Linked DNA regions of Homo sapiens. Each later gene encodes a partner of the first gene's protein in a complex. Each region holds a gene or a part of one and is shown in the gene's direction. Other genes may lie near its edges.

Evidence for each region.
Region 2: TADA2A (region 1) and KAT14 share a complex: the UniProt entries of both Homo sapiens proteins name them as parts of the ADA2A-containing complex.
Region 3: TADA2A (region 1) and DR1 share a complex: the UniProt entries of both Homo sapiens proteins name them as parts of the ADA2A-containing complex.
Region 4: TADA2A (region 1) and MBIP share a complex: the UniProt entries of both Homo sapiens proteins name them as parts of the ADA2A-containing complex.

What each region holds. Positions count from the first base shown.
Region 1 is NC_000017.11:37,472,866-37,479,890, forward strand, and holds the end of TADA2A (transcriptional adapter 2-alpha), read left to right. Parts: intron 1-1,690; coding exon 1,691-1,764; intron 1,765-3,931; coding exon 3,932-4,117; 3' UTR 4,118-6,860; downstream 6,861-7,025. UniProt on the Homo sapiens protein: Component of the ATAC complex, a complex with histone acetyltransferase activity on histones H3 and H4. Required for the function of some acidic activation domains, which activate transcription from a distant site. Binds double-stranded DNA.
Region 2 is NC_000020.11:18,133,470-18,140,873, forward strand, and holds the start of KAT14 (cysteine-rich protein 2-binding protein), read left to right. Parts: upstream 1-4,393; 5' UTR 4,394-4,486; coding exon of another isoform or gene 4,487-4,582; intron 4,583-4,601; exon of another isoform or gene 4,602-5,085; intron 5,086-7,404. Other genes in the region: protein PET117 homolog, mitochondrial precursor, read left to right, coding at 4,487-4,582. UniProt on the Homo sapiens protein: Component of the ATAC complex, a complex with histone acetyltransferase activity on histones H3 and H4. May function as a scaffold for the ATAC complex to promote ATAC complex stability. Has also weak histone acetyltransferase activity toward histone H4.
Region 3 is NC_000001.11:93,341,300-93,348,907, forward strand, and holds the start of DR1 (protein Dr1), read left to right. Parts: upstream 1-4,607; 5' UTR 4,608-5,346; coding exon 5,347-5,566; intron 5,567-7,608. UniProt on the Homo sapiens protein: The association of the DR1/DRAP1 heterodimer with TBP results in a functional repression of both activated and basal transcription of class II genes.
Region 4 is NC_000014.9:36,317,632-36,324,581, reverse strand, and holds the start of MBIP (MAP3K12-binding inhibitory protein 1), read left to right. Parts: upstream 1-3,944; 5' UTR 3,945-3,993; coding exon 3,994-4,122; intron 4,123-6,950. UniProt on the Homo sapiens protein: Inhibits the MAP3K12 activity to induce the activation of the JNK/SAPK pathway. Component of the ATAC complex, a complex with histone acetyltransferase activity on histones H3 and H4.

The sequences.
Region 1 (7,025 bases):
ATAAATAAATTAATTAATTAAATTAAATGAAGGAACTGGCTAACATGATCATATATTTTTGTTCTCTGTACTATCTGCACTGACTTGTTCATTGTTTCTTTTTTCTTTTTTTGTGAGACAGGGTCTCCCTCTACTATCCAGGCTGGAGTGCAGTATGTGATCATGGCTCACTGTAGCCTCAAACTCCCAGGCCTAAGTGATCCTCCCAGTTCAGCTCCTGAGTGGCTGGGACTACAGGTGAATGCCACCAAACCTGGAGAAATTTTTTTTTTTTTTTTTTTTTTTTTGGTAGAAACAAGGTCTTACTATATCACCCAGGTTGGTCTTGAACTCCTGGGCTCAAGTGATCCTCCTGCTTCAGCCTCCCAAAGTGCTCAGATTACAGGTGTGAGCCTCTGCACCCGGCCTCTTGTTCATTGTTTGTTCCTAGCCTGTGTTAGCCTTTCTCACCCCTTATATTTAGGCTGAGGAGATCTCTTGCTCTCCTTTATGTTCTGAGTTCTTAAGGCAACTATGTATTGGAAGCCTGGCATCTTTGATTGTAGCCTAGCCTCTGGTGACTTTTGTGAGGAACCAAATGGTTTTATCTCCCTTTTTGAGGATTTGGAATAATCCCTTATGCCTTTTGTTGATGTAACAGAGAAGCCTGTTTTCCACCAGTGGAGCTTGTAACAGTCCCTCCCCTTTCTCTGCCCCACTTGAAAAGCAACCTCTATAAAACTTCGACATTTTCTTTGCTTAACTCAGTCTATCCATTCCCAGCTGAATACCAATCCCTAATACACATTCAAAACAAAACCAAAAAAGTTTTGCTCATCAAGCTTCCCCTCCTGGCCAGTGACCTCCTACTTGGGTTTCTTTCTCAGGTGTGTGAGTTGACCTCAGCCCCTGCTTTGCCATATAATGGCTCATTGTTCCTGTTTGTGGATCTTGCAGGTAAACAGGGCTACTTTGGAAGGAACAGATATTCCCTCACATAATAAAAAAGAAGGGCCTTTTGCTGGCCTAACAGTCTTTCTTTGATCTGAAGGCACACAGTACTTGGTTAATTACCATGTTTGCCTTGTACTGCTGGCCGAGTGGCAAGGATTAGGGAATGTCTGTTCTGCAGTTATTATTTCCATTCGTCAGCTGTCAAAGCAGGCATTGTGTGATGTTTCTTAACTGGATGACATCTGGGCATCAGATTTTAGAGTCTCCTACATGGTTAGGAAGAAATAGGTGATAGTCGGGCATGGTGGCATATGCCTGTCTTCCCAGGTAGTTGGGAGGCTGAGGCAGGAGGATCACTTGAGCCAGGGAGATTGAGGCTATAGTGAGCTATGATCGCAACACTGCACTCCAGCCTGAGCAACAGAGTGAGACCCTGTCTCAAAAATAATAATAATAAATAAGAGATAACTACTGTGGTGAGTAGTTACATTTGATGCTAAGGTATGTGTGACTGTATGTGTATTTTAGCAGATTATGGGTAATTCATGTGCCCTGAATATGTAATTCATTTTCAAGTGAATGTTCGGGTGCCCATGTTGTTAGCTAAACAGGCCTGAGGGAATGGGACAGGATTTCCTAAGCTGGATATAGTGATCCTATACCTAACTGGCCTGGCTGCACTGAACTTTTTAATACTTTACACCTGAGAAATTGTCACTCCTATTAAATCTATGCTGTTTCCTTTCTCTGTCTATAGGTAGACGGAGTGCACCACCCTTGAACCTCACTGGCCTCCCTGGCACAGAGAAGCTGAATGAAAAAGAAAAGGAGGTAACAAAAGGGAGGGGGCTGGGAGAAAGAGAATAGGGGCTGATTATTCATTGAGTTGTCATTAAAAATCCATTACAGGGTCAAACCCCTTTTGTTTCATTCATCTAACATATATGCACAGCTCTGGTGAATCCTAGAAGTCCAAGAGCTAAAGAGCCGTTTGTGGCAGATTTCAGAGAATTGCTTACCTTGTCACCCTACCACCATTCCTCTTTTGGGGAAAGCACATGTGGTATGTAGATGACATAATAATAGCAACTATCATCTATTGAGCACTTACCATGTGCTACTCTACTGAGTGCTTTATGTAAATAAAATTAATTTTTTGTAAACCTAAAGTAACTTCTACATGAAAATAGATATTTCCTATTAGAATGGCTGCCTTGAAAAGTTCTATACTTATTCCAACAACATAATCATTATTTAAAACATTTTTGTAAATTGTCTCCAGAGCATGTTTATAAACCTAAGGAAAAGATTTCTACATCATATATAGTCATGTTAATTTTGATTTTAAAAATTATTTTTTATTTTTATTTTTTTTTATTTATTTATTTTTTGAGACGGAGACTTGCCCTGTCACCCAGGCTGGAGTGCAGTGATGCGATCACAGCTCACTGCAGCCTCCACCTCCCAGGTTCAAGCGATTCTTCTGCCTCAGCTCCCCGAGTAGCTGGGACTGGACTATAGGCGCTTGCCACCATGCCTGGCTAATTTTTGTAGTTTTTAGTAGAGATGGGGTTTCACCATGTTGGCCAGGCTGATCTTGAACTCCTGACCTCATGATCCATCCACCTTGGCCTCCCAAAGTGTTGGGATTACAGGCGTGAGCCACCTCACCCGGCCTATTTTTTATTTTTTATTTGAAAGTCTCGCTCTGTTACCCAGGCTGGAGTGCAGTGGTGTGATCTCGGCTCACTGCAACCTCTGCCTCCCGGGTTCAAACGATTCTCCTGCCCCTGAGTAGCTGGGACTACAGGCGCATACCACCACACCCGGCTAATTTTTGTATTTTTAGTAGAGACGGGGTTTCACCTTGTTAGCCAGGCTGGTCTCGAACTCCTGACTTCAGGTGATCCACTCACACCAGCTCCAAAAGTGCTGGGATTAGAGATGTGAGCCACTGCACCGGCCTGATTAAAAAATTATGTGACCTACTTTTTCCAGTTGCAATCATCAGACATGTCTTCATATTGATTTTATCTGTTTCTAAAATTTAAAGCCAGCCTCATAAGAGTCATCATCAGGAGTTTTCAGAAAACTTTGTCACATCTCTGAAGTCTGTTCCTCTTTTGGAGGAGTTCCTCTTTTGCTCCTCATATGCTCCTTTTATAATTCCCAAGGTCAGTTCCCCATCTCCCACCATATATCATTAGTTCAGTTCAGATAATAAGGAAGGGTCATAGTGTAGGGGATAGTGTTAGTCTTATTTTATCCACCAGGAACAGTAAGGATTAGTTTGGGAGTGGAAGGAAATGTATGTAGTATCTATGTATTGCTGAAGGAGGTCATAGGTCAGCCTGATTCAAATATTGAATGGCCTGGAATTTCAAGCTTTTTTTATCCTTACCCACATAATGGTGACCTCAGACTCCTCATTGCTGGATAATGTGGCAATTTTCTAGATTTTTAGCAGTTAAAGTTACCTCCTCTTAGCAAGGTCTCTTTATCTCCTTTCCCTTTGAAGTAGGAAATGTAATCCCCAAAGCAGGGACTACTGCTTTATGCTGACACTAAAAACAATGTGATGCAGCCTTGAGAATCCAAGTGTCTGTGCATTCTGCCCCCACTGTGCCCCATGGCTCTTCCCTGACCATTGGTGCTGGGACTGTACCTGGGCATTTAGTGTTTGACTCCTGAAAGAGCCAGGCTGCTCCTCAGGAGCACATAGTTGTAAATCCCTAACAAACCCAGGCCCCTGAGCCAGCTGGCATGTGCTAAAGGCTCTTCTAGTATCACACCCTGGCTTTCTCTTCCTGGGTGTGTGTCCTTAGGGAGTGTTCTCTCCAGAGAGGAAGAGACTAAATGGAATGTAGTCCAGCCACCCATCAGCTCCTATAAATAGTTGGAGGTTGATGTCACTTTAAAAAATTTTTTGCTATACCTGCTGGATTAAATTACAAAAATGACAGATGTTAATGTTTATTAAATTTGCCGTGTCTTGCAGCTCTGTCAGATGGTGAGGTTGGTCCCTGGAGCCTATTTAGAATACAAATCTGCTCTATTGAACGAATGTAACAAGCAAGGAGGCTTAAGACTGGCGCAGGCAAGAGCACTCATCAAGATAGATGTGAACAAAACCCGGAAAATCTATGATTTCCTCATCAGAGAAGGATACATCACTAAAGGCTAAGGCTCCAAGAGCTTGGGATCAGAAGTCAGAAGTTTGGAATGTGGTGGGTCAAAGGACAATATGGGTGGGCATTCTGGAGAGTTGTTTTTCAGCTGAATTCTCATGGTGAAAACAGGGGAAAGGACAAAGGAAACCTTAAGTTGTATTGTCTACTTTCTTCTCCATCCTGCTTTAAAACACTCCTGTTGTTGGTATTATGCTGCAGAGTTGTGTGCTACATAAGCTATTATTAAATGTGAGTGGGCATTCATTCCTAACACCTCTTGTAACTAAAAGAACCATAGTACCTCACATCACAGTGCTGGTAGAAATGGAACTAAACCACAGTCTGTAATCCCAGGAGTCCAGCTCAGATCCTTATATTGCGAGGTAAGTTTGCTGATTATCTGTCTTGCCTTCAAACACTGCAGACAGATTTAAAATAAAGAGAAAGGTTTTAGAGCATAAGAAAGCTCTCGTTGAAGGATTTTTTAAGCTGACAACTTTTTTTTTTTTTTTTTGAGACAGAGTTTGCTCTTGTCCTCCAGGCTGGAGTGTGATGGCAAGATCTCAGCTCACTACAACCTCTGCCTCCCAGGTTCAAGTGATTCTCCTGCCTCAGCCTCCCGAATAGCTGGGACTACAGGTGTCCACCACCACACCTGGCTAATTTTGTATTTTTAGTAGAGACAGGGTTTTGTCATGTTGGCCAGGCTGGTCACAAACTCCTGACCTCAGGTGATCTGCCCGCCTCAGCCTCCCAAAGTACTAGGATTACAGGCGTGAGCCATCGCGCCCGGCCTAAGCTGACAACTTTTATGAGTAAAGGGGAAGAAAATATCCTTATGATGGTCTTATCCCAAACTGCATCTTTAACTTCGGCCGGGCAAGGTGGCTCACCTGTAATCCCAGCACTTTGGGAGGCTAAGGTGGGCGGATCACGAAGTCAGGAGTTCAAGACCAGCCTGACCAACATGGTGAAACAGTCTCTACTAAAAATACAAAAATTAGCTGAGTGTGGTGGCACACGCCTGTAATCCCAGCTACTCAGGAGGCTGAGGCAGGAGAATTGCTTGAACACAGGAGGCAGAGGTTGCAGCGAGCTGAGATCACGCCACTGTGCTCCAGCCTGGGCAACAAAGTGAGACTCTGTCTCAAAAAAAAAAAAACAAAAAAAAACCTTTAATGTCTGGCTTTGTACTTTGCAGTCTGCCTGTCTAATCTGCAGTAGTCTTTTGAGGAGGTGGCACCGGATATAACATGTCTCTGTTATTTTTAGAATTAATTAAAATGTTTTGCTATTTAATTTGTGGGTGTGTCAAATATTCTGGTAACTGAAACACACTTAAGGTGTTGGATGCCTGCCCCATCACGCTGCACTGTCTGCTGTCACATGTGTCCTGAACTCACCCTGTTTTTGCCCTGGGTTTCCCAGGATACCAAGCCCCTGAGGATGGAGATGATGCAACAAACCTCAGCTTTGCTTGGATTGTGACTTGAACCCTATTTCTCAATGGTGAAAGGCTAGCCTGCAATAAAAGCTGCTTTTAAAACAGAAGTAAAGCAGCTTTATATATGGGACTCACTAGATATGAGGGTAAGTAGCCCCACCACATGTAAAACTTGGTCCTCAAACGTTTCTGCAGAATAAGAAGCCAAACTTATGGTTATCTTGTTTCTGTTAGAAACAAAGTTGTATATAGAAATAACTTCGTCAGAATCGACACAAATCACATCGAATAGTTGACTGTTTAATTCCTTCTACATTCAAATATCTAATTAAAATACTGTGTGCTTTGTTGGAAGCATCTGCTCAAACTTTTGACTGTTGTAAATATGCATGCAGCTGGGAAGGGATTCATCTAAGGGATAAGAAATGAAAAAGACACTCTAAGGACCTGAGGGAATTCAAATAGAGGACTTCGATTTTTTAAAAAGAATGACGTGGAAATGACCTGTTTTCCTTGTAAAATCATATCTCGTAGAAAACATTTTACCACTACCATCACCCCTAGTTGGTTGTGAAGTGATTGCCTCTTATCCCTGAAAGGAAACTCCTGTTCTGAAAAGTTGGGATGCATTAGCCATCAGTGTTAGGTGACGTCTGTTGTAGTCTGAAGAGTCCTTAACCTTGATTAAGGAAGGCTTCCTGGGAGAGGTGGGCTTTTGGGGCAATTATATGATAGAGAAGAGAGAGAAAAATGGCAGATGGAAGTGGGAGACAATTCCACACACAGGGGGTGGAGAATGATGTGGAGGCAGCAGTGGGTGTAAGGACAATGGTGCCAAGAGATTTATTTGGCTAGAACACAAGGGGCAGCTGGGTAGTTAGGAGTGGGAGGATGGTAGGACAGTCTGACAGAAACCTTGGAAACAGTTGAACTCTGAAAAGCTGATGGCAAATCAGATTTCATGAGGAAAATGGCATGGTTGAAAATAGTAATAGAAAAATAAGACTGAAGTTTTAAATGACTGGATTTTTGAAAGTAGGATTATTATTTCTTTGGTATACCGAACTTTGCAAAGATACGTAGCATTGCATCCTTCCTCTTTGCTTCTAGACAGGGTTGGCCATAAACCAACTACACTGATAGAGGTCTCTCCAGATTGTCTCAGAAGAGAGAGTTTACCCTGAAACTTAATGACATGAATAAAACCTGTTTACTGAAATTTTTATTGCAATTTAACGTTAAAAGTTTCTGCTGGAGTTTTATGCATATTTTTCTCTCTAAGTGGTGGGAAATAAAGAACAAATCTCTTTCCATGTAATGACTCTTCTCTGTGCTCAAAGACCAAGACTCTGTCTCTTGCGATACCAATTAATACTAAATATTCAGTTTATCTTTTCCTGGGTCCCAGTTTCTTTCCTTTTATTGTTAACCGTCTTCACTTCCCCCGCTTTTAAAAATCTGAACTCAGTTAAGCAACC
Region 2 (7,404 bases), on another chromosome or scaffold:
CAAACCTGTGCAGAATTTCAGATTACTTATATAGATACTGCATTGAATTCATGGTGATTAATTCCAGTACCAGAAGAAAAACTGGCTGTTTTGGAGTTCCTGAGAAAATATCTATTTTCTTCAACATGTCACCTTCCTAAAATGTTTTCAAGGGTAGTTTTAACTGTTTTTGACTTTTTCCTTATGTGCTGACTTCAGAGCCTCAGCCTGAAGAAGGTGGGATTTCGTGGCCTTGTCTGCCTATAGAGCCCACTACAGGGCCATACACAAGGCAAGCCTTCTTGCTTGCATTTAAAATAGTCATAATGGTGCTTTATGCGGTGCCATGTGGTGTGATGTTTCTGTAATCATTTAGTGCTGAGACTGATAAATTTATCAGTCACTGGTGCCAGTTCAGCTGACACCCTCCACCTTCTTCCCAAACAAACCTCCTCCTTCCCACCTCCTCCTTCTCTCTCAGCCCCAATGATGACAAGCTTCTGATCATTGCCTGAAGCCTCTGCCTTGACCTATTGCATTCATGCCCACCATCAAGCCCAGTTTAAACCCGTGCCTCCTACTGATACCTCCTGCTAGGGTACTAGTGATTTACTATTCTTTAAGACAGAAGTGACCCGAAACCCAGCTCTCCCAGGATAGCTGCCAGGACCTGGCCATGATTCAAGCCCAAATAACATAAGCCAAATTACACACTCAGTGAGGAAGGCATTTTTTTCAAGTCCCCACCCTTGTGTGAGTGAAGGTGGAACAAAGATTGTGTGACCATGTTGTTCAAACACAGGAAAATGACTGCATTCCCTCCCCTTAGTTTTCATTTGTTGATTCTTCTCCAAGCCCTGACTTCCAACTGTACTTCTTTTTTGATGCTGCCTCTTGCTTAGAGGATTCTGAAGGGAAGGACAGGGTAGTATGCTGTTCTAAAGAGTATGGGACTTTATCCTGTAGGCATGGGGAGCCACTGAGCGGTTTTTAAGGTGGTCAGCTTCCTATTTTTGTCTTTGGAGGTAAGTTCACTCTGAAGGCCAGCCAATGGCAGGGCAAGGCACCCACTGTCCTCTCCAGGAAAGCAGTGGCCATTCTGGGCACACCTAAGTCAATCCAAAGCTGAGAGGGGCAGGAACTGATGTGATCTTAGGATGCCGAGACACTAGAATATAGCCAGATACACAAGGTTCAGATGTTCTGGCCTTACAAGCAAATTGTATTAAATCAGCCATGCTTCCTAAGCTTCGTCCCACCTTGGTAAACATAAAAAATAAGGATATCTGTACAACTCACTGGGATCAACTTGCGTGAGCTTGGATAATTCTAAAAGGAGCTTCATGGATAATAATTATTTACATTTCCTTTATATGGTACTCTTATAAAAAAGAAAAAGAAAAACAAAAAAATAAATGACATATAATTATGAGAAGAAAAATAAAAGCAAATCTTGGGGTAGATTTAAATATCAACTTTGGGTAAAATTTCCTGATAACATTCTTCTTGGAGTCTCTTTTAAATATCAAGTTTTGTGTTAAAAATAGTTCCTGATCATTGCTCCTGCACATAGTTCTTGATCAAGATTTTTTTTTTTTTTTTTTTTTTTTGAGATGGAGTCTCACTCTGTCACCCAGGCTGGAGTGCAGTGGTTTGATCTCGGCTCACTGCAACCTCCACCTCCCGGGCTCAAGTGATTCTCTTGCCTCAGTCTCCCAAGTAGCTGGGATTACAGGCACCCACCACCACACCTGGCTAATTTTTGTATTTTTAGTAGAGACGGGGTTTCATCATGTTGGCCAGGCTGGTCTCGAATCCCTGACCTCAAGTGATCCACCCTCCTTGGCCTCCCAAAGTGCTAGGATTAAAGGTGTGAGCCACCACGCCTGGCTGATCAAAATCTTTTTAAATGATCATCTCTTTAATTTTTGATAGTTACCATGGAGAAAAAACTTTTTTTTTTTTTTTTTTGAGTTGAAGTCTCACTCTGTCACCGAGGCTGGAGTGCAGTGGCTCACTGCAACCTCTGCCTCTCGGGTTCAAGCAATTCTCCTGCCTCAGCCTCCCAAGTAGCTGGGATTACAGGCATGCGCTGCCACATTTGGCGAATTTTTGTATTTTCAGTAGAGACGGGGTTTCACCATATTGGCCAGGCTGTTCTCGAACTCCTGACCTCAAGTGATCCACCTGCCTTGGCCTCCCAAAGTGCCTGGAATACAGGCATGAACCACCGTTCCCAGCCAAAAAGCTATTTGATACAAGAAGTGATGATAAAATGTAAAGCCATCGGCTATGAACCAATGGGAAAAAAAAGAAAAAAACACACAATAAAAAATCAAAAGGAAATAAAGACAATAAAAGAAACAAAAAAGAGCCATTTTTTTTCTGTTCGTATAGTTATGTAAGATTTTGTATAGAAGTGTATCATGCATGTATGTGTGACCACACAGCCTTGGTGTGCCACTGGACCAATTTTCACAAACACCCAGTACCAGCACCCAGTACTAGAGTTCTAGATCAGCCTAGCCAACATGGTGAAACCCCATCTCTACTAAAAATACAAAAATTAGTGCAGCCTGGTGGCTCAGGCCTGTAACCCCAACTACTCCAGAGGCTGAGATACAAGAATCGCTTGAATCTGGGAGGCAAAGGTTGCAGTGAGATCACCCCACAGCACTCCAGCCTGGGCGACGGAGTGAGACCCTGTCTCAATTAAAAAGAAGAAAAGAAAAGAAAAAGAAAAAAATAGTTGCTTCTCAGTTTGATGATATGCAGTCACTCTCACAAATCAGTAATTTATGCGACAATAATCACGGAAAATATACTGCTTAGGCTTATAAATATTTAAACAGATAAACATACTTTTTTTTTTTTGCAAGACCTCCCTCAGTCCCCCAACCCACTTTTTTATTTGACACAGTTAATAATAAATGATTTCTTAAAAGTAGAATACTTTTTTTTTTGCTTCTAGTATCCTGAAAATAAAGAAAAGAGTACATTTCAAGAAAACAAGTTGAAAAATTAGTCACAATAAAATGAAAGGCGATTGATCTAATTCCCTGATGTACACTCTAAGGACATACAGCTCTGTTGAAGGCTCACTGATTTACAGGGGAAAATATCTAGGATATACCACGAATAAAAAGAAGTCTAATATAATTTTTAAAGAGAAATATGCAAATACACCCTGAACTGAATTTCTTCTCAAAGTTCATTACAGCAAGAACTCCATTTTCCAATTCAGTGGTACATTCTCTCTAGGCTGCAAAAAATGCTGTGGACAAAATGACATTTGGAAAAGGTATCTTTAAAGATACCTTTAAGAGCAATAGTCCCCTTATGCCATTTACGCTCACATAAGAGACTGGAATAGCAAAGCACTATGAACAGTAATGAATGTTGTAAAACTCCCTGGTGAGGCTTAATCAATACTGCCTATAGCCGTGTCCACCGGAAGAAGCTCGTTCTCTGTGAATTCTAGTGGGAAAGAATGATTGAATGATGAACACGTTTTCACTGGTTGCTCTATCAGATACTTAAAAGTTTCTGGGAGGCCTTGCCTTTTTTACCCGAGGAAGAAGTGAAAATGCGTCTTGCACAATTGCTTAACTATTCCCAACGCAAGACTTCTTTATATCATTTATTTCCCTTGTATTACTGGCGCGGAAACTTGGGTGTAAAAGTGATCACAAAGATTACATGGGGCCAGGCGCGGTGGCTCACGCCTGTAATCCTCTCGGGAGGCTGAGGCAGGAGAATCGCTTGAATCCGGTAAGGTTGCAGTGAGCCGAGATCGCGCCACTGCACTCCAGCCTGGGCGATAGACAGAGACTCTGTATCAAAATTATAATAATAATAATAATAATAATCCGAGCCTGACCAGTCGCCCCACAGCGTCAAGGTGAAACCAGGTGACCGCGACTACAGCGTTTAATAATGGGTCCTCAGGCAAAAACTCCACGGATGGGAACCCCGCGCCTCTGAAGCTGCCTAACGAGGCGGTCTCCTGGTGGCGCCTGCCCCGCCAAAGGAGCAATGAGGGGGCTGCGTTTAGGCGAAGCCGGTATTGGGCGAAGCTTCTGGATCAGTCAGGGGCTCAGAAGGGACGTCTGTGGGAGAGGGGTCAGCACGGTATCCAGACCCCGCCCGGGGTGAGGTTGGTACTGAACTGACTGAGGGGCATGGAACCCCCACCCTCCACCCTGGTAAGGTGCCGGGGCCAGTTTGGGCCGGGACTCCTAGAATTTGAATCGGGGGTGGTCTAACGCTGTCGCCTGCGGGGTGTGCAGGAGGCCCCTAGTGAAGCCAAGAGTTCGTAGAGCCTGGGCGCCGCTCTATGCTCGGCTCTCGATTGCTCACGCCTGGCAGCGGCGAGCGGCGCACGCGACGGCTGGGGCTCTGCGCTCGAGGGGTCGAGCCTGGGCAGTACAGGCGGCGGTGCGCACTCTGCGGCGGCCTCTGCGCCTCGGGCGGGCGGGAGAGAGAGGCCGCGGCCGCCAGCGTGGGGATGTCTAGGAGCTCGAAGGTGGTGCTGGGCCTCTCGGTGCTGCTGACGGCGGCCACAGTGGCCGGCGTACATGTGAAGCAGCAGTGGGACCAGCAGGTCGGTGTCACGTGACCGTCTCTTCCGGGCCCGCGCGCGCGGCGTCGACCTGGGGCCTCTCGTGGTCTCTGCCCGCTCGGTTCCTCAGCTCCTCTTCGTGTCTTTCCCCCGCGGTGGCGCGGCCCTGCACCCCACGCGTTTGCGGCTGCGGCCGGCGGCCGCTCTGCTGGGCTCCGGGCGCTGCAGCTCCCGGCGGGCGTGTGCAGCCCGCAGATTCAGGACGACCCGGCTGCCCGGCTTAGCGCCTTTGGAGCTCCGCGCTGAAGGGGCCTTGCTCCGCACAGGCACGGCACGCAAGCTTTTGGGGTGCCCAGTGGCTCTGTTTTCAAGTCACAGCCGGCCCGCAGGGTGCGGACCTTTCCACATCTCACTTGGGCCGCTAGAAAATAGAAGGTGGGGAAGGAGTTTCTTGGGGTGCATTCTGCAAGCTACCAGCCTCCCTCCTGGCCCAAGGTTGGGGTTAAAGCCTAATGTGTTTTACGTGCTATTGATTTTATCCCATGGTAAGGGAGCCCCCCTTCCCCGTACTCACTCTCCATGCCTTTGACCAAGATAATTTGGTGAGATGTTTGCACTTCTCGTTTAAATGAACAGTTTGCTATGGAAACTAGAATCTGGGAACGATAGAGATAACAGTCTCCAGATTTTTTTTTTTGGTACTTTTATTTCAGGAAATATCCGTGACCTGCTGATCAGCAGTGACTATTCTGTCCTCTCAGTTCATATTTTCTTTCTTATTCAAGTTGACAGACCTTTAATGGGTGATTACTGTGTGGAAGCTACCTCACTAAGCACCTTGGGAATACAAAGATAAGGAAACTCCACTCTTCCAGAGTCTATCAGTGATTCACGACCTTGCTGAGAACAGGGTCATTGGTGAATTTTCAGAAAACAACTTGGCAGTGATTGGGGTTGAACCTAGTTCACCAAGGGTGAAAATAATGGACTGGATGAATCAAGAGTAAACAGTCTTTTCTTGATTTGCCTACCCAGACCTTTGGACTGTGCTATGTGCTTGATATACAGAGATGAAGTGGATGAGGTCTTTGTTCTTGGTGTTCACAGACTGTGGAAATTAGAAGAGAGGAAGCATGTGATGGTACAAGAATTTTGACGAGGGGTTGAGATGACTTAACAATGAAAGGGCACAGGAGAGATCAGAGATTTGGGATTAAAATGTGCTCCTAAGGGGCTGGCTTTTGGAATAGAGGCAGAAGACTTCCGCCTCTTACAAGGAAAAGTAAAAGATGTTGATCCTGGGAAAACTTGAGATGGAGTAAAATTTAGTATGACAGATGATCTGACGTCAGTGAAGTGATGTTTGAAGGGTTTGGGTAGGGATGGATTAGAGCTTGGCTTTGGACCCTAACTGAACATCAAATGTTCCCGGAAAGTTTTTACAATGTGACTAAGGCTTGGTCCCCACCCCAGACCATTTAAACCAGAATCTCCTGGGGATGGGGACCTGGTTCAACAATGTTTTAAAAGTAACCCAGAGAATTTTAACACAGGACTAAGCACCATTGTGTTACAGAGTGGAAAAGTGGTTATTTGGAAGTTAGAGCTGAAGAACCAAAATAACGTGTGTGTGTGTGTGTGTGTGTGTGTGTGTGTGTGTGTGTGTTTATTTTTTTTCCTTTTATGTCCGGTTCTTCATTAGGGGCTTACATTGTATTAATAGCAGTGGGAAAGACTAGGACAAATGATTAGCACAGTGGATGTGTCGGAAGGTTCAAGGAAGCAAGAAATTAAATAATGAATATTGATTCCTGACCGTCTACCACATACCAGGCAGTGTATTAAGCACTTTATGTATATCATCTGTAATCCTCACAGTAACCTAGCAAAAATTAAGCAGTGCTACATGAGGAGCCAGAGTTCTAGGTGTTAGGGTTGGAAGAATAAAGAGGTCTTTAGTGATTAGTAAGGAAAGTTGTTAGAAAGGTAGTTCAGTGAGGGTCACAGGAAGGATGTGTGAGGCAATCAGCATAGACCTTGAAACCTAGAGGAAGATAGCAAATGATGGGATGGAGAGCCAGATCATAAGCACACGTGACATCTCTGAGAAGGAAGGGTAGGATCTGGGAGGCAGGTGTGGAAGGAATGATTCTGGTGAATGGTGTGGGCTTGGGAGGGTGGGTATCGGTGTGTCATGGTGTAAGAAGCACAGGACAGGAAGACCTGCAGTTGGGGGAGTGGAATAAGCACCTCCGTTTTTGTCTCAGTGGTGATCTTGCCAAGGGTGCATGGTTCAAGACAGTTGTGTTTCAGTTGAGTTATATCAATCCCGGGACTCCTTCAAATCCCTCATAATGAAGCTGTAGGCCTGGAGGAGGTCCAGCAAGTAGGTATTATATTAGGTGAGTTTTTAAAAATAGGTAAAATAATTTGGAAAAAACCCCACAAACATACGCAGGCCCTGGGCCCCACTCCCATTAATTCTACTCTATATAGCCACTATTAAAAACCATTTATTGGCCAGGCACGGTAGCTCATGCCTGTAATCCCAGCACTTTGGGAGGCTGAGGCAGGCAGATCATTTGAGGTCAGGAGTTCGAGACCAGCCTGGCCAACGTGGTGAAACCCCGTCTCTACTAAAAATACAAAAAAATTAGCCAGGCCTGGTGGCGCACGCCTGTAATCTCAGCTACTGGGGAGGCTGAGGCACAAGAATCGCTTTAACTCAGAAGGTGGAGATTGCAGTGAGCTAAGATCGTGCCATGGAGCCAAGATCTCCAGCCTGGGTGACAGAACGAGACTCCTTCTCAAAAAAAAAAAAAAAAAACCAATAAAACAAAACAAAAAAAACCCTATTTATTTAT
Region 3 (7,608 bases), on another chromosome or scaffold:
CTTTTTGCTTTCTGTCTTTGAACATTTTTCAAAAAATTCTACCATCCTTAAAGGTCTTTATCCAGTTTCAAAGTTAACAAATATTTATTGAGTGCCAAGGACTGTCCTGGCTCTGGGGATGCAGAAATAAACCAGACCCTCACTGGCTCTGGGTACTTACAGTCTAGCTTAAACAAACCCTGCTATAGAGGGACTTGTTACATAGCCCTACTATATGATCCCACATCTCCGCTGTCCAACTCTCACTGGATACATCCATTTGGATAGCTATTTCTTTCTCTCCATCCAAATCTACCTCTTCTTACCATCATTGTCCCCACCTCCATTATTATTTAGGCACGGTCCTCGTATCTCACGGTAGATGCAGGCAGAAGCTAAATCCTGTAAATTCTGTTTCCAAATGCCTCTAATTTGTTTCTTTTATCTTATTATCACCAAACTTTCTTTGTTCAGGTCTACATCATTACTATTTTTACAATAGCTTAATAATTAATGTTCTTGTCTCTGTCCATTCCAGACCATCTCACATGCGAACTCAAACTAATCTTTTTAAACATTATTGTTTATGTCATCCCCCTTCTCAAAAATGTTCACTAACTCTTTCCACTGCTTACAAAAGGATCTCCAGACTTCTTAAAATGATGTGGAAAGACTTGAGACTTTGTAGTCAGAAAGCTTGGGTTGCATTTCCAATCTGCCACTTATTCACTCTGTGACCTTGAATAATCTCACTGGGCTTCAATTTTCCCATCCATCAATTGGGATTAATGACTAGTTATAAAGACCAAATACATGTGAAAGTGCTTTATATTTTTAAAGTCCTATAATGAATATAACCTTTTTTCCTTTTTTTTTTTAATTTAGAGATAGTTACCAAATTACAAATAGCTTCAGCTTTGGAGTTAAGTAACAACCTGGTTTGAAATTTCAGCTCCATTACTTATTATCTGTGAGACTTTGAACAAATTAGTAAAACTCTCTGAGACTGTTTTCCCCCCATGTCAAAACACCTATTTTGCATGGCTATATGGAAATTAAATGAAATAGCAAATATGAAAAACTTTTGGCCCAGTGTATAATTCATATCAGGCACTGATCTGTTTTCTTTTTGCCCTAACCTACTTTTCCTGCATCATATACCACTACACCTCTTTACAAACCTTATTAATAGAGCCACTCTAGACTACTTTATTTCCCCAAGCCATACAATGTACTTTTGTGTTTTTTCTTCAGCTACATGCTCTTTCCTTCCCTATCAAAATTGTACTCAATCTTCAAGGTGCAGTTAAAATATCCAGTCCTCCATAAAACCCTTTGTACTCCACAACTAGTGTGTTAATCACTTCTTCCCATGCATTCTTAGCCTGTATATTTTATCACAATATTTATTTGAATCTGGTTTATATTCTGCTTCTCCCACCAGATTATAGGGTCTTCAAGAACAAGGTGGGAGTTATATTCATCTTTATTTCTCCCACATCATAGTCAGGACACTAGACAGTTATTGAATGAATGTAGAAATCAGATGCTGTCTTCTCTTTCCACTTTCTATAGGACACCACTTCTACAAATGCCTGCCCAAACATGTGCAAAAGCAAGCACATCTTCTCTAAACAGCTCCCTTTCAACTCCACTGTTTTTGACAGTGACACTCCCCTAACCCTACTCTGAGGCTAAACTTTTTTTTTCCTTTTCTTGAGGCAGGGTCTCACTCTGTCACCTAGGCTGGAGTGTAGTAGTGTCATGGCTCACTGCAGCCTCAGCCTCCTGGGCTCAAGTGATCCTGCCACCTCAGCCTCCCAAGTAGGTAGGATCACAGGTGTGCACTACCACACCTAGACAACATGAAAAAAAAAAGTTTCATATATATGCATTCTCTCTGAAACTCTTAAAGCTTAATAAGGAGATGTTCTCTTTGTCCTTAAAAGCCTATTTATAATACAGATACATGTAGTGTACTATAAATAACTATTTAAATATGGGCTACAGATTAGCATATTTTATGACATATCACACTGGTATTTATATCCAATTAAATTTCTCTCAGCCACGTATGTAATAAACTAGTTACATGGTTCATTACTAGTTGAAGACTGACCAAGCCTGATAAAGATGATAAAAGACACTAACATTATATAACACTTCATACTATAAAAAGTACTTTCACACAACTCTCATTTGATTTTGAATCCTGTGTGTTACATAATATTTCTATATCTGAACTGAAGAAAATGAGGCTTGGAGAGTGACTTGTCTAAGTAAAAAAAAAAGCTGGGACTGGAACCTACAACTCTTACTACACATTCAATTCTGTTTATGCTACCACAGAAGCCTGTAGCAATAAACTATTACTGAAATAATGTGTGCTCTACTCGTCTATTTAGCATAAGTCTATAAACATAAATGTTACATGAAAAAGCAAAGTTATAGTTTTTTCAGGAGAGACAAGATAAGGGTCAGTGACACTGTGACAACTTGGGACATTTTTTGCCAGCCAGCTTTTTCAGACGGATAAACTTGTTAAGGTCAAGATAAATTTAGGCACCATAATAAATCTTTAAATCAACAGTAAACTGACAAAAAAAAACAAACCCACCACTTCATAAAGTATTTTTTTTTTTTTGAGATAGAGTCGTGCTCTGTCTCCCAGGCTGGAGTGTAGTGGTACGATCTTGGCTCACTACAAGTTTTGCCTCCAGAGTTCAAGCGATTCTCCTGTCTCAGCCTCCCAAGTAACTGGGATTACAGGTGCCCACCACCACACCCAGCTAATTTTTGTATTTTTAGAAGAGGTGAGGTTTCACCATGTTGGCCAGGCTGGTCTCGAACTCCTGAGCTTAAGTGATCCGCCCCCCTTGGCCTCTCAAAAGTGCTGGTATTACAAGCATGAGCCACCATGCCCAGCCTGAAGAAAATTTAATTAAAATACTGTTTTTAATCAAAGAAATTTTGTTTTGACTAAATTTAGTAGCACTGAAAAACAAGTGTCTACACTTCAGAAATTAAAGAACCAGTAAGTTGTCCTGCAGAAAATGCTAAATGAAAAAATAGCATAATAAACTGTAATGTCTTCTTGAGAGCAGCATATAGGGCTCAGACAGAACGTTTTAAGAAAACACTGTCAACAAGCCAGTTGCCATCATATGTATCAAGAGTAATGAATCTGATGAACCAAAGTGACAAAATGGATTTCAACAGTGTCTTGTTTAGTTTTTAGAAATTCCAACATCCCACTATTTATAGTATAGCCTCTTCTTCCACATGACAGTATGACAGACTCAGTTTTTTTACTTTTTTTTTTTTTTTATCTTTTTTGAGACAAAGAATCTTGTTCTGTCACCCAGGCTGGAAGTGCAGTGGCACAACCGCAACTCACTGCAGCCTTGACCCCCTGGCTCAATCGATCCTCCCACCTCGCCCTCCAGAGTAGCCGGGACTACGGGTGCCTGCCACCAAGCCTGGTGAAAAAAAAACCCGTGTTTCATATTGTCATATAGAAGAGGCTATACTATAAACAGTGGGATGTTGGAATATATATTTATATATATAAATATATATTATATATATATATATATATATTTTTTTTTTTTGTAGGGACGGGTCTCACTATGTTGCCCAGGCGGGTCTTGAACTCCTGGGCTCATGTGATCCCCCTGCCTCAGCCTCCCAAAGTGTTGGGTTTACAGGTATGATGAGCCACAACGCCTGGCTGACACACTTTTTTTTTTTTTAAATGCAATTTCTGTTTAGACCTTGACACCTGTTGATATTACTAGTCACTATGGAAAGAAGTAAAAACAGTTGCTTAAGATGCTCTAACACTTTTTTCCCCTGTAGAAGCCAACATGGAATACAACATGAAAACTGTCTAAATGGGAACCTTCTAATATAGCTCATTGTATGCCATGCATTTCCACTCCATTTCCACTATGTTGGAACTGACTTCTGCTTTCCTACTTAGCCATTAGGCGACTTAGTTGCCTCTAGGCAAGTAACTTCTCTGAAATGTTTCATTTTTCATGAAGTTTAAAAAAAAAAAGGTGAAGGACTTTAGAGAGCTTTGAACCGAATAAGGTCTATCAGACATCTTGAAAAGCTTTTTCTCCAGACGACGCAGAAACAGGCACACGGGGTTCTGCTTTCCCCACCTCCCACCCCCAAGCCCAGGTCCCATTCTTCTCACTTTCAATCCTCATTTGGGCTCCTAAAGGAATAGCAAAGAGAGTTATTTTATCAATACCAGCGCTCCTCTGTCCCCAAATCCAGCTAGGGAAGGTTTCGGAGGCCTCAGCTACTTGAGAGAGGGTAGAGACGATCCTTCCTCGCCTATCTACCCAGCCACCCACCCCTTCCCAGATGTAGCGTCCGGGCCCCAGACCAAGCGCGTGCTTGGAGCTCTCCGGTACAGTGAGGCGCGCGCTTGCCTGGCTAGGGTCCCTGTGAAGGAATGGGATCCCGAGGTGCTTGCCAGGACCGTAGCAGGCGGAAGCTGCTGGCAGCGCGAACGGGCGGCTCCCGCCGGCGTGGGTGGGGGAAGGGCGGCAGCCACACCCGGAAGTCGGTCCGGGAGGGAGGGGGAAATCTGAGGGAACGAGGCTTCCGGTGGCGCAAAGGGTGTCGGGAGCGGCTTCCTGCAAACCTTCCCTGGCATCTGGAGGGACCACCGTTGCCGCGTCTTCGGCTTCCACGATCTGCGTTCGGGCTACGCGGCCACGGCGGCAGCCACTGCGACTCCCACTGTGCCTGGCTCTGTCCATATTAGTTCCCAGGCGGCCGTCGCCGTTCCAGCAGCGGCAGCGGCAGCGGCAGCGGCGGACATGTTGTGAGGCGGCGGCGCGGGTGTCTGAAGGATGGTTTGGCCGAGGCGGCGGCAACGGCTGCTGGCGGCGGCGGCAGCGGCAGCGGGGCCTCGGGCTCTATAGAGCCGAGCCCGCTGGGTACCCGCCCGGTACCGCGGCGAGGCCAGTGCCCCTGGATCTTGCCTCTGCTCCGACGCCGTTGGGGACCAGTTAGGCGACAGCGCCCGCCCCTCTGAGGAGACACGAAGGTGGTTCCCCAGCCGCTCAAATTTCCGGACCACCGCGCTTTCCCCTCCTCAGCCTGGGCTGTGCTCTCTCTAGAATCCTCGGGCCCCCACTTTCTTCCCAAACTCATCCTAAATCTCTCACACACGCGAGTGTTCCCAGCCCTCAAGCCAGCTGCTCCTCCGTTCATTTTCTGCACCCTCTTCGCAAAGCACCCCCCGGGATCACTCTCCGAGGGCGACTTTTTGAGAAATCTCGGTGGAGTAGTGGACCAGAGCTGGGGAGTTTTTAAAAGCCGGGGCGCGAGAAACAGGAAGGTACTATGGCTTCCTCGTCTGGCAACGATGATGATCTCACTATCCCCAGAGCTGCTATCAATAAAATGATCAAAGAGACTCTTCCTAATGTCCGGGTGGCCAACGATGCTCGAGAGCTGGTGGTGAACTGCTGCACTGAATTCATTCACCTTATATCTTCTGAAGCCAATGAGATTTGTAACAAATCGGAAAAGAAGACCATCTCACCAGAGCATGTCATACAAGGTAAGTCGTGTGTGAGAGCTGGTTTGAATGAGGTTCTAGGGTAGCAGTCTGCTAATCGCGTGACCCTTTCGTGTCAAAGCCTCCATTCCTCTTCCCTGGTAAGTAACTTAATGAAAAAGCCAGACTGGCATGTAGGCAGCCGGTGCTTTAAAAACAATCCCTTTGTAGCATTTTTGCAGTACTTTTCATCCAGCGAATACATGTAAGGAGTGCAAACATTTAGGTCAGCGTCCCCAAAACGTAAAGAATAAGAGTGATCTCACTTTACAGCCAGGTAAGCCGAAGCAACAAGAATTACTTGCCTGAAGTTGAACTTAGATAATAATTAAGGAACGCAGAAATTCTCCTTTGGAAAGTTAAAATTCAGACGGAGGAACTTCAACGTGGGTGGAGACAGAGCACCCCCTTCCCCACCTGACCTTTCACCAATGTAGAGGAAAAGATTTATTTTCTGAACACATGAGTTAAAAAATTCTTAACATACAATGTGTTCAACGTTGTCAAGTTTATCGTTGTTAAATAAAAGGTGTATGTTTTCTGCTCTAAAAATGGTTTGATGGTACGTTCATGAATGAGTTACCAAATAACTCCTGTTCCATTCTGTAAGAATAGGGTGAACTTTAAATTTTCGTTTTTTTCTTTTCGTTTGCTTTTATGTCGTTTGCTTTGTTCTATTCTGTGGAGATAAGTTTTGAAATCTTTGATTGAAAGTTTATGCAAGTTTTTTTTTTAACGGAAAATTTCCCCGTCCTTTCCTGCTGTCATTCCTATTTGAATGTATACACTTAGGCTTTTATGGAACAGCACTTCTGAAAACTTCAACAGTTTCTTTTATCCTGGAAAGGATTTGGTCCCGTAATAGGGATTTGGGGGACTGTATTCTGGTGGTTTCAGAGAGGAGAAACATATTTACTATTCATAATGTTTCGGGAACGTACCTTTTGCGATATTTTTACATGTACTCTTGTGAAAGAGTTGTACTCAATTTGAGGTGAGAACTTGCCTTTTGTAATAATCTAATTAAAGTTATTGATTGCTTGTGAAATCAGGGAAAAATGATTAATTTTAATCATTTTGATAGGCAGGTGGTTGTCTATCACTTAATTTTTATAATTTAACTTTTTAAAATGTGACTTTCCTGTTGTACTGAAGTAGAGAACACATCTGCTTATATTGACCATATCCAATATTTTACTCTCAGTATTGACAAAAGGATTAAATGATTCATTTTTAATCCTTTATGACGTCTTGAAAGTAGTTTTAAAATATATCCTGCCATTTCAGTACACAAGCAGAAAAATCCCTAGGAAAAAGCATATTTGATTCTTAAAACTAGTACTAGTTTTTTTTTTTTCTACTTGTTTGGTGTGCTGAATACTCTAGCAAGTAAAATGAAAGCCAAGTTGTCTATTTTTTCCCTTGTGTATTTATTTTTACATTGTATGTGTGATTGCTGTCATAAGTCTTTCACAAGATTATCCAGCACAGATAGCTATAATTTCTTTTTACAACTCTTAAAAAGGAAAAAGAACCTTTATCAACATTGCCTTTCTAATGAAAATTGCAAAAGATTTCAGCAGGGTCTGCCTAAACATTTGTTTACACTACAGAAGTGGGGATCGTTCCAAAAACCTAATAACACATTACAGTCTGTCTTCTTGGGGAGAGTTGATTCTTTTCTAGGATATATTTAGATTTCTGATTGACATGATGGAATAGAAGTGCAGCTGTAGCAAGCAGTATGCTAAATAATTCAACTTTGGAATATGCTAAATTCAGTTTAATGTGTGAGTCAGAAAGCTATAGTGAAAAAGCATTTCCATTGTGTAATGAAGATGATTTGTTTTTAAAAATCATGTATTGACGTGTTACCTTAAATTTAAAAATTTACCTTTTTTTCTTGTATTATGCTATTCTTAAAAGTGGTTAAGAATCTACATTTTCGCCCAAGAATTCTCCCTAGTTGGGGTTGTAGACTTTATACATTTATAATCTCATATTGCTTAATTATTCCAAAGAAGTTTTGTTTTGAGAGATTACAT
Region 4 (6,950 bases), on another chromosome or scaffold:
TTGGGCTTGACTGCACTGCTAAACTCCTTGCTAATAGGAAGTAATGTTGTGAGCCATTGCATGAAATGGCAATACAATTTGCCAATTATTATCCCAATTTACTTGATCATGAACTGTTTTGCTAAAATTAGCACATTATAGACTAGCATTCCATAAAATACACTTTAGGAAATGCTTGCTTAGCCATACTTCTCTATTTAATGTATCCTCCCTAAACATATTAAGCATGTTCAAGTTGCTGTTCATGTTTTCTATAAATTCCTTGAGAATTCTTATTTATCAATTCATATTTTGATATCAAATTCATATTTTTATCAATATCAATTCAGATTTTACTTTAAGTGTTTATAGCTTTTCCTGATTCTGGACCCAACCCCCTCCCCAAAGGAACTAATTGGCTGCATTACTTTATACATACCTCTAATATGGCCATTGTCACATTATATGAAGTTGTTTGTTTATATATCTACCTATCCCACTAGAACGGGAGCTCTTTGAGGAACAGTCCTTGTCTGATTCATCTTTGTAGCTCAATGTCAATTAGAGTGCCTGGTATATAGTAGGTACAATTAATTTGTATGTGTAAAATTATTGAGAATGGTTATGAAGGCTAGCTATATTTACTCCCTTAAGAAAACTTAGAACACTTTGAATTTGCTGCCACAAAAGAGAATAAACAGACTTGTTTCGTTATTTAAAATAAATTGTTTATAGCAGTCTATATGTTACAATTTTCCTTCAACAATAGGCACTTGTTTACTTTTTTCCATTTTATAAATCTGTTCACTTATGAAGGCAAATAAATTCAGCTCAACAGGCATATACTGAGCAATTAACTCTGTGCCAGAAACTATGCTAAGCCTTATGTACACCAACATATAAATGCTTATAGTTCAATAAGGAGACAGATATAGTCAAATAAATTCAAGTATCACTGTGATAACTACAATAATAGAAGTATATACAAGTTGTAGGAGTAGTTTAGCAGAGGAGAAAATAAGCTCTTTATGAGGGGGGATTCCCCAAAGATTTTCTAACTGGAGTTTGAAAATGGAAAAGGAGTTTCTCAAGCAGACAACAGGCACTGGGTAAAAATCAAAGCATGGAGGCAAGAAATAGTAAAGTGTTGAAGACATAAAAGCAGTTTCAGAAGCACTAAGCACCAGATGGTTTGTGGCAGAAAATGAGGCTGGAAATTTAGGCAAAGGCCACATCATAAGAGCCTTCATGTCATTCTAAAGAACTTGGACTTATGCAGCAGGTGATGGGGAGACAGGGACGACAAATACCATTTATTTTACTTTTTCTGCATTGAAATAAAATCTGTATTATCATATATGCAACAAACATCAGTTGAGCCCTTCTAATACCTCAGGTATTTTGCTGGGAACTGGGTTATTCAATAGAGTTATGCCATTAAAGCTCACCATAAAAGACATTTTTGTTGATAAGGTAAATAGCCTAGATTTCATTTATAGTCTCTATCCTCCCAATTGATTCTTGGCATAAGCCTGCTGGACAGTATTTCTAACTCTGTTGCTAACGCGAACACCAACACTTTGAATCATTTCTGCCAGGCAGCAGATTTTTCAGCAACCCACTTTATAAACTGTAATTAGTTTTCCATAAAGAGCAAATTATTCCCTTTATTCCCTTTCTAAATTTCATAGCGCATATTATACTTTTGTTATACATACATACACACATACAATATCTACAAATTTCTATTTTGAGTTGGCCCAAAGGAATCCAAATCTTTTCAGGCTACAAACTCTTCTATTTAAAATAGAATTTTCTATTATAAAATAAGAAAATGAGAAAAATTTCCAAAATGAAGGTAATAGGCATCAAGAAGAGTAAGAAAGGTCCTTAGAAAGAAGAAAGAATGCACAAAAGAGTTAACAAATTTTAAGTACTACTGGTTGAGTATCCCTTATCTGAACTACTTGGGACCAGAAGTGTCTCAGATTTCGGATTTTTTTTAGATTTTGGAATATTTGCATATATATAATAAGCTATCTTGGGGATGGGACCCAAATCTAAACACAAAATTCATTTATGTTTCATGTATACTTTATACACATAACTTGAAGGTAATTTTATATAATGTTTTAAATAATTCTGTGCATGAAACAAAGTTTTGACTACATTTTAACTGTGACCTGTTATGTCGGATCAGGTGTGAAATTTTCCACTTGTGGTACTGGCACTCAAAAAGTTTCAAATTTTGGATCATTTTGGATTTTGAATTTTCAGATTAGGAATGCTCAACCTGTACCTAAGTAAAGAATACTAAGATACAAGTGCAGGTCTGGATATCAAATCACAGAATTACATGGAGAAGCAATACACAGATCAAATGGCCATCAGTTAATTCTGTATTAGAGGCTCAAAAGAACAAGTAAAACTTGAAAATTCAAAATCAATGATGGCAAAGAAAGGAATAGCAGCACCTTGTTAAAGACAACATTTTTTAAATATACAAAGCATATTCCCAAATGTGTTGCATATCAGTGTTCTCCATATTTGAAAAAATATGAAACACCTCAATGAAAACAAATGATCTGAAACTGATTGCTAATTTGGTACAAAACAAAAACTTACAGTTACCCCATTACCATGCTTGAATAAGAAGGTTGCTCAATTTGAGACTGGACATTGTGAAGTATTTTTCTGCCTGTAGAAATAGGCTGGAATGTCAGTTGTATATCTTGCTGCCAACAAGGGAACAGAAAAGATTTCCCAAGATTCTGTCAAGCCTGGTGATCCCATTTGTCTTTGGAAATGAAAGCCTAATTAAGAGACTCCCTAGGGACAGGTCAAAGGAGTTTTTATCCCCATCGTCCTTATCTTAGTTCCTTGATGCATTAGTCCTTCCCTTTAATTTAGTCTACCCTAAAACTAAAGAATACACATTGTGCAAGTTTCCACCTTTGCTTTCTCTACTGTAAATGCATTAGACTATTAACAGAATTACGAGTTTTAAATCCCACCTTCCTTATCTCTAAGCTGATGTTGATTTCTTAAAGTGTTTTTGAATAAAGCTTAACACTAAAAATTATTGTAATACTTTAATTGGATAACACTTTTTAAAAATATCGGAGTCTGACTAAAAGATTACAAAACCCCACAAACATCGTTATAATAAAGCTATTATGATAAATAATACTTTGTAAAATTTGAATTCGGTTTTATGTCCTAATTTCAAAGATTGTGGTTGCATGATATTATTTATCCAGGTTAAATTCCTGTTGGAATTATATTGACAGTGTTTCATTTCTTTGAAACAATTTTAGGGTTAAGCGTCTCTACAGTTAAAACAGAGAATATCAACTGTAGTCCCAGTTACTCAGGAGGCTGAGGCAGGAGAACCGCTTGAACCTGGGAGGCGGAGGTTGCAGTGAGCCGAGGTAGTGCCACTGCACTCCAGTCTGGGCGACAGAGTGAGACTCTGTCTCCAAAACAACAACAACAAACTTGAAGAGATGAAAATGTTCTATCCAATCATGATAATTCCGTGTGAGTTTTCCAATGTTTAGAAACACGTGTGGGCACCACTCCATCCCTGACCAGCAAGCTTCCTCCAGACCCACTCCACACCGCCATGTTAAAATGTCAACTTTTACTTTTTGGACTCAAACTACAAAATTTAACTATGTCTCCTCTTACCAAGATTCACAATGAACACCTAGGAGTCAAGGTAGGCTTCATAACGCTAAAGAGACCACGACTCTAATGACCACCCCAAACACAGCATTCCAGCCTAGCTGTGGTCTGCAATTACCCACTTCAGAGCCTCGGCGCAATGTCACAGCTGCAACTGATTGGTGTAACGTGCTTGTCATTCACATAGAGAGGGTGGGGCCTCAAAGCCCGATCTAAACCAGACTCCGTGTCTTACGTCATCGCCAAGCGACTAAAGCTGGAAGGGAGGGGGCGGGGTTGTGAGCAAATCTTGGTGGTGGTGGTGGTGGGGCGGCCTGAGAAGATATCATGGCTGCTGCCACGGAGCTTAATCGCCCGAGCAGCGGTGACAGGAACCTGGAGCGAAGATGCAGACCCAACCTCTCCCGAGAGGTGCTCTACGAAATCTTTCGCTCCCTACACACCCTGGTTGGACAGGTGAGAGGTGGCCTGAGGGACTGGGAATATGGAAACCATCCGGTCCCTCCTCGCCATTCTTTTTCTCTAGCAGAGGCCGGGGGCAGCTAGGCCTGCAGAGGTGTGGGATGCGGTCCCGAAGCCGAGGTGTGGAAGGAGCCCGGGCCCAGCCTCCTCGGTCGGAGTGAGGAGGACGGCGGTACCGGTTGCAGAGTCGTTTACCTTGCAGCTGTCCTCCCCAAGAGTGGGTGAGGTTGGCCTAAGTGAAAACCCGGCTCCGAGAGAGGCAGGCTTGGAGAGAATGAATGTGGAAAAGCTTCACTGCGAGTTTAGGAGGCGCTTAGCGTTCAGGGTCCTTTTTCCTCCAACTTACTCTTTATGGGAATTGGTTGGTCAGTAGGCCTGAGATTTATAGAAAAGCGCGCGCTTATTAGCTTTTTTTGGTGGGGGAGGGAGTAATTTGTTCTTATGAGTTACTTGGTTTTGTTTATTTCTTTTTTCCTTCGGGCTGTTTTGCGCATCTATAATCCTTTCAAATGGGGAGAAAAGTAAAAGGAATTCATTTAAAATACTTCTAGCGTAAAATGCTGTTGGCGTTAGAACTGTCGTTATTTAACTATTAACTAGTTTAACTGGCTGATAAATCGCTTTTGCAGAAATGTCATAGTAAAATTGGTTTTAAATTGAAATGGGCTTCTTCGATCAAGTCACTGTTTCGTTTCATGGTGTAAAATTCAAGTTTTAAATGAGAAACAATTTAAAAGTATGCTTGTTTACCTGCCTTTTAAAAGGAAATATTTTCTATCTTACATAGACCATTTTCTAGCCGTAAAAGTTTGTTTTGGGGCTGGTACTAGCGCAAGTGGACAAAGCAGGCATTTGTGTCAAAGATAATGGTAAATTCCTATGAAAATAGAACATTTGTCTGATTTGTGAAAATTATTTTTAAAGCCTTGAGTAGATGGAGAATCAGTCTTTTAAGAAGTTACTATTTTTAAAAATCGTAGTATGTTGTGTCTTACAAAGAACATTACTGTAAGTTAAACGGTTTTATGAAATGACGCAGTTATTAATGGAGTCTGCTTAAAGATATAACTTTTAAATTCAGTTGTTTGCCAAGTACTTACCAAAAACATTTTTTAAAGACTTGGGGTGTTTTGTTATTAACATTCCATTCTTAAGACCCAAGACGTTTAAATGGTTTAAAAGTTAGAGAACTTTTTATGGCGACGTTGGAACTTAAGTTTATTTATTTTATAATGTCAAGATGAAAAAAGTTTATTCTCACCTGTTAACAGAAGATGGAATATTTTTAAAAAATACTGAGCAATGATTTAAACATTTCTTTTGAAATATTTTGCATACTGAATTTTTCAAACTCATTAGAAAATTTTAAACATTCAAGTACTGTACAAGTAAAGAAGTGATTACAATTTACTTATGTCACCTGTCAAAAATGTTCACAGTAAATATTTGGTTACTTTACCATGACACAGTGAAGGGACCTCCTATACAAGTGTCAAAAATATGATTGTTTCATCAATTAAATACAAACTGTTTTCATAATACTCTATATTTTGAGAAGTGTTAAGAGTGAAAATTAGAGTTCCATACTTATAAAATTGCCCCCAGAGAAATCAGTATTTTCTTTTGCAACCACTTTAAAGGATATTTAGAATGTATGTTGTAACATGCCTAACTTCATCCTGTGTCATCCCTAAGTATCGTTGTATTATTAGATCTCCTCAGTAGGAAACATAAAACTGAATGTTAAAAATAATTTTTTACTTAAGATCACAAAATTTACTAATTTTAACCTTTTTGCTTGCCTCTGGATGGTCCATCTTACCAAGCTAAACAATTATTTATTTTTAGCTTGGATTTTTGTATTAATTTAGTAAAGTTTTTACTGAAAATATATATTTAAATAGTCTATATTAATAGCAGACTAATAGAGATTTTCGAGTGAGTGGTTTACTCTTCCAAGTTCTGTAGGGCAAAATGCATAGAGTTCATATTACTAATAATGAATTTGTTGAATGAATAGTTAGATGTATTAGGACAGTTTTAAAATTAATTTGTGACATTATGTGGTTTTCTTAAAAGACTAATTATTCTTAATTGCACTTGAAGCTTATGTAATTCTGCTGAATTGAAATGAGAATATGAACCAAACATTAAGACTTATTTTTCTATAAGTTATTTTCTCTAGAAAATGTGATACTTTGCTTTGGTTGAGGATTTGCCTGCTTTATCCCCAAGCTGTATTCTTAAGTTTTCTATAATCAACTATAGATCTCCTTGAAGACTATGAAAGTACATTAATGGGTTACTTCCATACATAATACAGGTTGTTGTCTAACAAAATCTTTATAGGAATTAAAGTAATATAAATTAATGCATTAACTTTAATGTACAATCTTAATATATTCTAATCTTTGCCAGTGCAGCCTACATGAAATTTCATATCTCTTTATACTTGTCTAATATGGACTTTTAAATGCTTCCATTCTCATCTTCAAAGGGCAGTAAATTTCTGTCACATAGTATTTATTCAATATATTATCTTTTTATTGGTAACCTTATATCTTTTTGATCTTTGTACAGTGATTCATCTTTTTTATTATAATTGTGACTCATAAAATCTGTATTTGAACTCACGTAACACCTTTATTTTGTAGAAAAGATGACTCATTTTGAATAAATTATGTTAACTTGATTCTACTATGAAGTATAGTCTTATACTATGCTGTAAACACATGTCCCTAGAAAAGTTTTTGATGGTTCACTTTTATTCATTCAAAAGACTGCAGATGGGCGCTCTCATTGTAAAATTTTCACTCATTTTG